Linked DNA regions of Homo sapiens. The protein of the gene in region 1 interacts with the protein of each later gene in a pairwise test. Each region holds a gene or a part of one and is shown in the gene's direction. Other genes may lie near its edges.

Region 1 (3,729 bases):
CCACAGCATCTAGAGGTTTTGCAGGGCAATGCTGGGGGAGGCCTGTCCACTTCCCCTCCTCTCCTCTTCCACCTCCTTTTACCTCCCCTTAACCACCCCTTCTTACCCTTGTGTTCTCTTTGCTCATTCCATCGATCTTCTTTAGAGAGACTCGGGACTGGCTTGAATGTATCCAAATAAATACACCTCCTGGAGTTCCTCAGTGAAGTCGAACTTAGCCCGGGCTGTGGCAGGAAGGTGTATGAACCTGGATGCCTCTGACCCATTGGACTTTGGTCCATAGGCAGTGAGAATGGTGTTGTTCATTCTTATGGTTTGGGGAGTGTTGTCTGACAGAGGGGCCTGCTGACACTGTCTCCTCACCCTCTGTGCAGCTTCTGGATGTGAAATTCCAAACCTGGCATCTTCTGGGCCTCCCAAGACTGATTCTTCCTGTTTCCCAACATGCAAATTGCAGGCTCCATAACTCCTCAGGAGCTATTGCTGGCAAAAGGCTATTTTCCCTCACTGAATTTTTGAACACGTTTCAGGATTGTAATGCAGAAGTTTTTATCTCTGATCCTGGGTAGCAGCATTTATTGGCACTGGGGAAGAGGGAAACAACAGAGTGGAGATGGCACACTGTGGGCCTGCTGGCTAAAATGCTTGTGGCTGAAAGCCTGCAGATGTGTTTGGTTTGGTTCGGTTCACATATTTTTTAAATCAGTCAATTTCACGTTGAGAGAAAAATTTTTTAAAAGTGTCTGGCCTAACATGAAAAATCAAAACATCTTCCAACTCAGCAATCACATTTCTAGGGCAATCGGCCATGACAGAGTGTCACTGTCTAATTTTAGGTGGGGGCGGGTGTTTTTACTACAGTCTCCACCACTCCCCATGGTCTCACACCTGGCCTGTGTTTGTGCTCCTGTGCATCTTTGACCTTGGGTGGGGAATATCTTGCATCAGGGTCATGGCTGCTGAGGCTCCTGGGCGTGTGTGCTCCAGAGATAGGCCTCCACTCTGCTCTGACTCTGCTGTTGCTTTGTATGGGGACTGCTCATGCCTTGGGTACGAATCGCTCACTCCTAAAGAGGAGCAGGTGAGAATGTGGGACATCAGAGAGTGCCTGGGTTTGTTTCTTCTCTGAATTTATTAGCCTGAAGAAAGAATTAGTGAAACCTGAAGTTTGGTGGTAGGGTGGGGATAGAAACTGTTGAAGGCCTTGATTTCTATAAATAGTAACCTCCATGTATGTTTGACAGGTGAAAGGAAAGCAAGCCAGGATGGATATTTACGACACTCAAACCTTGGGGGTTGTGGTCTTTGGAGGATTCATGGTTGTTTCTGCCATTGGCATCTTCCTGGTGTCGACTTTCTCCATGAAGGAAACGTCATATGAAGAAGCCCTAGCCAACCAGCGCAAGGAGATGGCGAAAACTCACCACCAGAAAGTCGAGAAGAAAAAGAAGGAGAAAACAGTGGAGAAGAAAGGAAAGACCAAGAAAAAGGAAGAGAAACCTAATGGGAAGATACCTGATCATGATCCAGCCCCCAATGTGACTGTCCTCCTTCGAGAACCAGTGCGGGCTCCTGCTGTGGCTGTGGCTCCAACCCCAGTGCAGCCCCCCATTATCGTTGCTCCTGTCGCCACAGTTCCAGCCATGCCCCAGGAGAAGCTGGCCTCCTCCCCCAAGGACAAAAAGAAGAAGGAGAAAAAAGTGGCAAAAGTGGAACCAGCTGTCAGCTCTGTAGTGAATTCCATCCAGGTTCTCACTTCGAAGGCTGCCATCTTGGAAACTGCTCCCAAGGAGGTGCCGATGGTGGTGGTGCCCCCAGTGGGTGCCAAGGGCAACACACCAGCCACTGGCACTACTCAGGGCAAAAAGGCGGAGGGGACTCAGAATCAAAGCAAAAAGGCTGAAGGAGCCCCAAACCAGGGCAGAAAGGCAGAGGGAACCCCAAACCAGGGCAAAAAGACAGAGGGAACCCCAAACCAAGGGAAAAAGGCAGAGGGAACCCCAAACCAAGGCAAAAAGGCAGAAGGAACCCCAAACCAAGGCAAAAAGGCGGAGGGGGCCCAGAACCAGGGTAAAAAGGTAGATACAACCCCAAACCAGGGGAAAAAGGTGGAGGGGGCCCCAACCCAGGGCAGAAAGGCCGAGGGGGCTCAGAACCAGGCCAAAAAGGTAGAAGGGGCCCAGAACCAGGGCAAAAAGGCAGAGGGGGCCCAGAATCAGGGCAAAAAGGGAGAGGGGGCCCAGAACCAGGGCAAGAAGGCCGAGGGGGCCCAGAATCAGGGCAAGAAGGCCGAGGGGGCCCAGAATCAGGGCAAGAAGGCCGAGGGGGCCCAGAATCAGGGCAAGAAGGCCGAGGGGGCCCAGAATCAGGGCAAGAAGGCTGAGGGGGCTCAGAACCAGGGCAAAAAGGCCGAGGGGGCTCAGAACCAGGGCAAAAAAGTAGAAGGGGCCCAGAACCAGGGCAAGAAGGCTGAGGGTGCCCAGAACCAGGGCAAAAAGGCCGAGGGGGCCCAGAATCAGGGCAAAAAGGCCGAGGGGGCCCAGAACCAGGGCAAGAAGGCCGAGGGGGCCCAGAACCAGGGCAAGAAGGCCGAGGGGGCCCAGAACCAGGGCAAGAAGGCCGAGGGGGCCCAGAACCAGGGCAAGAAGGCCGAGGGTGCTCAGAACCAGGGCAAAAAAGTAGAAGGGGCCCAGAACCAGGGCAAGAAGGCTGAGGGGGCCCAGAACCAGGGCAAGAAGGCCGAGGGGGCTCAGAACCAGGGCAAAAAGGCCGAGGGAGCCCAGAACCAGGGCCAAAAAGGAGAGGGAGCCCAGAATCAGGGTAAAAAGACAGAAGGGGCTCAGGGCAAAAAGGCAGAAAGGAGTCCCAACCAAGGCAAAAAAGGAGAGGGAGCTCCCATCCAGGGCAAAAAGGCAGATTCGGTTGCTAATCAGGGCACAAAGGTAGAGGGTATTACAAACCAGGGGAAAAAAGCAGAAGGGTCCCCCAGTGAAGGCAAAAAGGCAGAAGGGTCCCCCAACCAAGGCAAAAAGGCAGACGCAGCTGCCAATCAGGGTAAAAAGACAGAGTCAGCTTCTGTCCAGGGCAGAAATACAGATGTGGCCCAGAGCCCAGAGGCACCAAAGCAAGAGGCTCCTGCCAAGAAGAAGTCTGGTTCAAAGAAAAAAGGTGAGCCTGGTAAGTAACTGATTTCTTTATGAACTTAGAAGGAAAGGCTGTCTTTAAATGACTTATGGATTCTCTCGGGGAGTGCCACCTGTATCAGTCAGCTATTGTCATAATAAGGCTGCGTAACAAACATTCAAAAAAAAATTCAGTGGCCTTCAACAGCAGTCATTTATTGTTGCTCATGCTTCTGGAGGTTGGCAGATGTGAGCTTTCTCGGTTGGTGGCTCTGCCTCAATCTGGTTTTAACTGGGTTGGTGACTCTTTGCTACAGGTTGAGCTCAGGTCAGTTCCATGTGTGGTCCTTCTGGCGCCCTCCAGGGCAGAGGCCCTTCATAGTTACAACAGAGGCACAAAAGGGCATTTCAAGTCAGCATTTCATTGACCAGATCAAGTGATGTGTCTGAGCCTGAGTCAAGGGGCAGGGAGTCCACTGTGTCCAGGGAGAAGGGACTGCAAGGTGATGTGAGAAAGGAGAGGTGAGGAGTGAGCAACAGGTCCGTGTCTTGGCATGTCTTAAACATATGGGAGCACAAGGAGAGGTGAGGAATTAGGAGCAATAAT
Region 2 (3,729 bases), on another chromosome or scaffold:
TTACCAGTTCTTGGGGTCCTGAAAGGTTTTAAAATGGCCTTGATAATGATGAGCTGTAAAAATTAAACATCCTCCTCCCCCCGCCCCAAACAACTGAACTGAACTGTACTAAACTGAACTAAGGCAGGGTTTTTGGCTGCTACTTTGTTCAAGTTCAGGTAAGTAGAAGATATCTCATGTCTAGGTCTGAAAACAGCCAATGAAAGAGTTGCTGGAAATCATTCCAGGCAGTTATTTTTAAAAATGGTTTTAAGTACAGACAGGTATCACTTAATGATGGAAATACATTCTGAGAAATGCATCAGTAAGTAATTTCTTCCTTGTGTGAACACCCTGGAGTGTACTTACACAAACCATGAGCCTGCTACACCGTTAGGCTATATGGTGTAGCCTATTGCTCCTAGGCTACTAACCTGCACAGCATGCTACTGTACTAAATACTGTAGGCAATCCTAACCACAATGGTATTGAATGTATATGAACAGATCTAAACATAGAAGAGGTACAGCAAAAGTACAGTATCATAATCTTGGGGGACCACTGTCTTATATTGGTCCCTCAAGCAAAACATGATTACACAGTGCATGATTGTATAGGAAAGTATCTTTCTAAAACCCTTCACACCCCTGTGTGTGTGTGTGTGTGTATGTATATTATATATATGTGTGTAAGAAATATGTATATATTTCCTCCTCCTCTTGGAGAAGCCTGGTGTTTGTCTTTGTTCCTTCACACTGGCTATAACAGGGTTTCACTGTGATTCTCTTAGATTGAGTGTTTCTGTGGCATTTCACACAAGAACACAGTTTTAGGAGAGCTTTCTCTCTTTGGCCATCTGCCTCATCCCAGGAAACCAAAGCGCTGGCACATTAGCTCAGGGAAATTGCCCATGTCCAGTGAAGAGATGGTCCTGTCTACGTAGGCAGGTTCACTTAACCTTAAAACAGTATCCAATAAGTGATTTATGCCCAGCCTACCTCAGTCTTAGCTAAGTGATCCTTCAAGCTCCCAGAACTTAACATCTACCTGTGTGTGGATGCCTCCCACAGCCCATTCAGGGACTGAGGCCCTGGCTGAGAAGGTATTAGAAGGTTCCACATGCTTGGCAAATCTGATGCGTTTCCCCTAAATCCTGGAGCGAGTTGCTTTCCACCCTTCTTCCCTGGTTCATTTTGACTCTTTTCGCTTACTTAAAAAAAAAAGTCAATAATGTCTAAGCTTATAACAAAAATGACTGGATTCCATTTTGTGTTTCAAAGATTTGAATTACATTAAGCATCCAAAATATATCCAAATGGAAAAATGTTCATTAATAAATCATTTCTGTCTTCCTGAATAATGTAGTTGTAAAATTTAACAACTTGTAAGAAATATCTTGTAAAATGTACCTGGTTTTCCTTTTGAATATTCAAAAGCCTAATTTTAAAGAACTATTTGACATTTTAGTTTTTCATGTCTTTTGTTTTTTTGTCTTGCTCTGTTGGCAGGCCGGTGTGCAGTGGCGCAGTCTCTGCTCACTGCAACCGTCACCTCCCCAGTTCAAGCGATTCTCCTGCCTCAGCCTCCTGAGTAGCTGGGACTACAGGCACGTGCCACCATGCCCAGCTACTTTTTGTATTTTTAGTAGAGACGGGGTTTCACCATGTTGGCCAGGATGGTCTCGATCTCTTGACCTCATGATCCACCTGCCTCGTCCTCCCAAAGTGCTGGGATTACAGGCATGAGCCACCATACCTGGCCTTTAGTTTTTCATGTTCTGTAAGATTCTTTTAGGAATGATAGTGTGAGTGTTTTACATATGGTAAATATATTTCATTTTATCATAATTTAGGTGTGAATTTCCAGAAGGAAAGATGGGTAACGATTATATTAATTTAAGGTAATATTTAAGTTACAGAGGTTTTTCTTACTTGTGTTTTTTTAATAGAAAAAGTAGATTTTATATCTAGTTAGCTATCCATATTTAAAGTAAATATTTTAGGAATAATAAAAATGTTAATGTTAAACAAGTTTGCTGAGTTCCTATTTATCATAAAGCTTAAGTTTTGCCTTTGAAATCTCATTTTTTAGCCATCCATTTTAGATACATTGAAGGCTGCATTCCCATTTTCTTTTCATTCACACATCCACTTCAATAATTGACTTCAGTGCTTTCCAAGTTATGTGTGGTGAGGGATCAGTTTTTATTTTTTTAATTTCCAGTCCTTCAAACGAACACTTTTATAGTACAGACAAATTACTAGGCAAATGAAATTTTAAAAAGACTTAGAAAATATAAGCCCAATTTTAAAAATTATTTAAACAAGTGTAAACTAGAAACTCTGTCAAATTGCTGTGAAAAGTTTCTAAGTACTAATTTCTTCACAGACTCGTACCCAACAGTTGGTGAAGGGTCCCCAGTCCTCAGACACACTTTACCTGGCACAGTTCTGGTGGAAGCCATGCAAGACTGTTGTTGTGGTACATGATGATTTTACTCCATTTGGCTGGAGGTTATTTCAGGAGTGTAATTTCTTTTTTATATAAAATATTCATATTATATCAAAACCACATGACTTTTTTTAAAAAGACAGAAGTGTTTTTTTTCCAGCTCTGCTTTGCATGCCCATGTGCCCTGTAACTCCTTCCGCTGTCTCCCCCCGTGTGACACTGAGATGTAAAGATAGCATGGTGTTTAAAAGTGGCATAAGATAGGCATGAGTGTCTGTAAGCGCACTGTCATATTTACAAGCAGCAGTTGAGATGTGGAAGTGGAATTAAGTAATTAGGGATAGCTGTGTTGTGAGTGAAAGTATTTAAAAATATGATCAGTGCACATTTAAGGCAACGGAGCCAGTCAGGTCAAATAACAACTAGGATGAAACTATCAGTTTTCTTTGCAAACATCCACTGGCTTTGATTTTACCCAGATGGTAAAAATATATTATCAAGATAGTTGTTATGATAAAGGGAAATGTATCCTTTCTTTTCTCTTGGTGCCTCAGATCTACAGGCCATGAAGAAATAGAAGTCTCTACATTCAGATGGATAGGAGGCATTATATTTTTATCAGTGTTAGGAATATACCGTAGATATTTTACATTAAAACTGAAGTCACAGAGATGATTCAAATTCTTCTTCATAAAGAAGTGAGTGTTTACTTGAACATCGTTAACATTTTGATGAAGGGTCATTGACAAAGAAGCCATACACATTCGCTGTGTCAACTCCTCACTTCAGACTATTCATGAGGCACATAATCTTTTTTTTTCCTGCATAGTTGTGGAATATGAATACATTAAGGGGAATTTAATGGTTTATGATCCATGTCACTGTTTGATGGTGATGTTGAATGTTTGTTCTCTGGTGTCATAAGGCAGCATACGTATACAATAGCTTAGAAAAGGGGAAGAAATTATTTGTTTCTCTGCCACCCTCACCTGTAGCAGTTTTAGTTTAAAACCTTTTATTTACCCTTCTTAGTTTATTTTCTGTCCATATAACTGAAAATTATTGTTTGTTAAGAAAGAGATAGATGTATGGTGTCAAAGGCAGATGGCAGACTTCGGGGTTAATGTCATTGTTATTGTAATTGTCTGTTTATTCCAAAACATTTACCTTTTTTTAAGACTTTATTTTTTAGAGCAGTTTTAGAACATTTACTTTTTATGAGTTTTTATTAATACTTGCCTGTGGTTGACAAATCAGTGGTGTGATTAGAACCAAGATCTGTCCTATTTATACCCGGAG
Region 3 (3,500 bases), on another chromosome or scaffold:
GACAGATGTGTGTATACACTACATTTGTTTATAACCAGAAGCAAAATAAACTCAGCCCACAAAGCTAGAATCTTTTCCTGGACAGTTTAGGCTTTGGGGTTTGGAAATGTAAATGTGTACCTTGCTTTAGTTTTGAGGCTGGGGAATATGTGTGGGTGTTTATGTGTGTTTTTCCTTATGTAGGTGTTATTGCATTGGAGTCTCCCATTTTCATTCTCAAATTTACCTCTTAAAGTACGAAGTAAGTAGATCAAAGGATTTGAGATGTGTAACTGGCATGATTCTGCTTTTGAAGGATCTATAGTATCATTTTAGTTAAGTGGGTCAAACAGAATCAAAACAAAACCCAAAGAAATAAATAAAAAACAAAATGGCTAAATAGTTTAAAATAGGTTAATTCGAACACAGGAAAGGATCTATTTGTTGTTTCTTTTGTCTGGTCTCCTGAGTTGTTAATTAGGTGAAAAAAGATCTGCAATGGCCCCCTCCCTTTCCTAATCTGGCTTTTACATTTATTTTGTGCCTTAAAGATTAACTACAAAGATAAACATGGCCAAAAATAAATAAATAAATATGGCCATATGTCCGTTGTTGCTTAGTCTTCCCTTGCAGCCTTTTACCCTTGATTTCTCCTTCATCTCTACCAAATATAGCACAACTCCTCAAGTAATTTTTTTTTTTTAAGATGGAGTTTTGCTCTTGTTGCCCAGGCTAGAGTGCGGTGGCACAATCTTGGCTCACTGCAACCTCTGCCTCCTGGGTTCAAGCAATTCTTCTGTCTCAGCCCCAGAGTAGCTGGGATTACAGGCACCTGTCACCATGCCCGGCTAATTTTTGTATTTTTAGTAGAGATGGGGTTTCACCATGTTGGCCAGGCTGGTCTTGAACTCCTGACCTCAGGTGATCCACCCGCCTCGGCCTCCCAGAGTGCTGCGATTACAGTTGTGAGCCACTGTATCCAGCCTACTCAAGTGATTTTTAAACCAAGGTGTGTGTATGTACATGGATGTGTATGTACACACACACACAGGTGCATGCATAGTCTCATCTTAGCCGGGCATGGTGGCGACAATCACATTTAACTCCAAAAATTTGACGTGCTATTTTCTTCTAAAACTATAGATGCTTTTATTTTTGGTCACTATTTAACTTTGTGTAAAGTGGACCAAGAGAAAACCATATTGTGGAAGACAGTTTTTCACACATTTTAGTATCCGTGTTGCACACTGTGTTAGAGATTATGAAAACCATTCTAGTTCAGTTTATCACCCAAAGCTATCACCCAACACTAACTCCTTAGTATTCTTTCAAAGGAAGCAAATAGTAAGATTACAATATAGAATGAGCTAAAATATCAAGGGGAAAGCTTCATTTCCTCTTTATTCTCTTTATCGTCCTTCCCATTTTAACCTTTTAACTTTGTTTTGATGGTGCCAAGTTGAGTCTGATGTACCCATTGTTAGCTTTGGATAGAATTTAAAGTATATCCCAGAATTAGCTGGGCATGTTGGTGCATGCCTGTAATCCCAGCTACTCAGGAGGCAAGGCTGGAGAATCGCTTGAACCCGGGAGGCGGAGGTTGCAGTGAGCTGAGATTGCGCCATTGCACTCCATCCTGGGAGACAAGAGCGAAACTCTGCCTCAAAAAAAAAAGAATTTAAAGTATATCCTTTGAGGTCATTTTATGTAACAATTAGATATAACCTCCTGTGTATCTCTCTGTTCCTCTTCAAAGTTATTAAAATTCAGCTTAGGTCATGGATTTTTAATATGAGGGCCAGCTGTACTGGTGTCAGGTAGGTGTTTTGGGTGTAGATAATTTAGGACTGGAGGGCTGAGTTAAGTTTTAGGAGGAGAATGTGGTTGAGAATATTTTGAAAGGAATTTATGGAGTTTGTGAAATAACTTCGAAGTCCTCTTCCTTTACAATATTTGAATTCATATTTGTACCTTCTCAAAATAGTGATTCATTTTTCCTAGAATTACAGGAGGGAGCTCTTTTACTAATGTTGTTTTGTTTGCAACTTTGATGGCTTATAATAGGAAGTATTCTAGTTGTAAAGAAAACTCTTTAGAGACTTTTGACTGGTCAGTATACTGAGGTGTGAGATTTGATTCATGATGAAGAAAGCCTATAGATTGCCAAAAAATTAATTCTCCAAACCACCTTTCACTCTCAGAAAATGAGACCACAAAGGAGTATGCTATAAATCAAATTTGCCAACCAATTATGTAGATATTACTCATTCTAGGACTAATGATGATGGTAAAGAAGTTGCCAGTGTTATGGCAATGAAAATTTCAGAAAGGAGGAGTTGATGATCTTCTAGATGTATATGAACACCTGTCTATATCTGCATGTATATGTTTTGACCTGCAGTGGTTGCAATGTTGATATGTGTTCAAGATTATTCCTGTCTACAAAACTGAAGGCCCATGTTCAAATTGTTCTTTATTGGGTGTTTTTATGGTCACGTGGTAACAATTTTCTTACCTAACCTACAAAAGGTTCTCTTGATGAACATTTTTATTTATATTTACTAATCTTTTTTAAAAAAAGCTTTCATAGCATTATATAATCAGATGAAGAAAGCCCAGTAGAATAAAAAAAAAATTCATTAGCCTAGCCTATATTATGTTTTCTGTCAAAGGAAAACAAATTCTCAAATAGGAATTCTAAAAATATTTACTAAAGTAAAATAACTACTTAAAATGTTTTATTCCAGTTGGAAGGAAGGTACAGGGAGAAATCGCAATTATTTAGGGGAGAAGTATATTTATTATAAGATGGTGTCCTCAAATTAGCCTACCATGGCACGTAGGGGCAGCAGCTATATTAGATTTACTAGAGGTGCTAAGTTAGAACACTAGGCTTTTATTGAGGCAGGTTTTAATATTGATAGATGCTTTTTGTTTGGTTTGTTTCTTCTGGGAGAGAATGGAGGACTTAAGTAGAAGTAGCTACTGATAACAGACTTTCTAGTAGCAGTTTCCACTCCACGGTTACCTTTTTAGTTTCATAGTATCTTTTCACAAAGTATTACAAATAAGCTAGATTCTCCCAGTTTGGGAATGCAAGTTTGCTACATTTTTAGCCTGGCAATATTTGTGTAGGTATTGCCTTATTGGAAATTCTGGAAACCTGATACTGCAACCTGCAATGTAGGATGTTTGTATGGCATTTAAAGGTAATGGTGATGTTTATTATTCTATACTTTGCATTCTGTGAGAGTAATTTTCACTCTGTCTTAAGTGTGAGTAAGCCTCTTCTAAAAATCTTGTTCTTGCCAAGAAATTTATAAATCACATACGAAGACGTCTGTTGCTAACAGTTAACTTTATGAGGTAACTATATCCTTCTATTTCTCTGGACTCATTTTTAAAAAATATGCCGAATACTGCATACTGTTTAAGGTAGTATATAAGTTTATGAGAGAAGTGGAGAGCTTTCTTCCTTGAAAAGTCGGTATTTGTTGAGATACCATTTGCCTCACAGAGAG

What was found.
Region 2: the proteins of RRBP1 (region 1) and SMAD9 interact in a two-hybrid assay, tested with the Homo sapiens proteins (one large-scale study listed by BioGRID and IntAct).
Region 3: the proteins of RRBP1 (region 1) and ATF7IP interact in a two-hybrid assay, tested with the Homo sapiens proteins (one large-scale study listed by IntAct).

Annotation. Positions count from the first base shown.
Region 1 is NC_000020.11:17,658,044-17,661,772, reverse strand, and holds part of RRBP1 (ribosome-binding protein 1), read left to right. Parts: intron 1-1,244; 5' UTR 1,245-1,265; coding exon 1,266-3,177; intron 3,178-3,729. UniProt on the Homo sapiens protein: Acts as a ribosome receptor and mediates interaction between the ribosome and the endoplasmic reticulum membrane.
Region 2 is NC_000013.11:36,875,093-36,878,821, reverse strand, and holds part of SMAD9 (mothers against decapentaplegic homolog 9), read left to right. Parts: intron 1-3,729. UniProt on the Homo sapiens protein: Transcriptional modulator activated by BMP (bone morphogenetic proteins) type 1 receptor kinase. SMAD9 is a receptor-regulated SMAD (R-SMAD).
Region 3 is NC_000012.12:14,498,182-14,501,681, forward strand, and holds part of ATF7IP (activating transcription factor 7-interacting protein 1), read left to right. Parts: 3' UTR 1-3,500. UniProt on the Homo sapiens protein: Recruiter that couples transcriptional factors to general transcription apparatus and thereby modulates transcription regulation and chromatin formation. Can both act as an activator or a repressor depending on the context.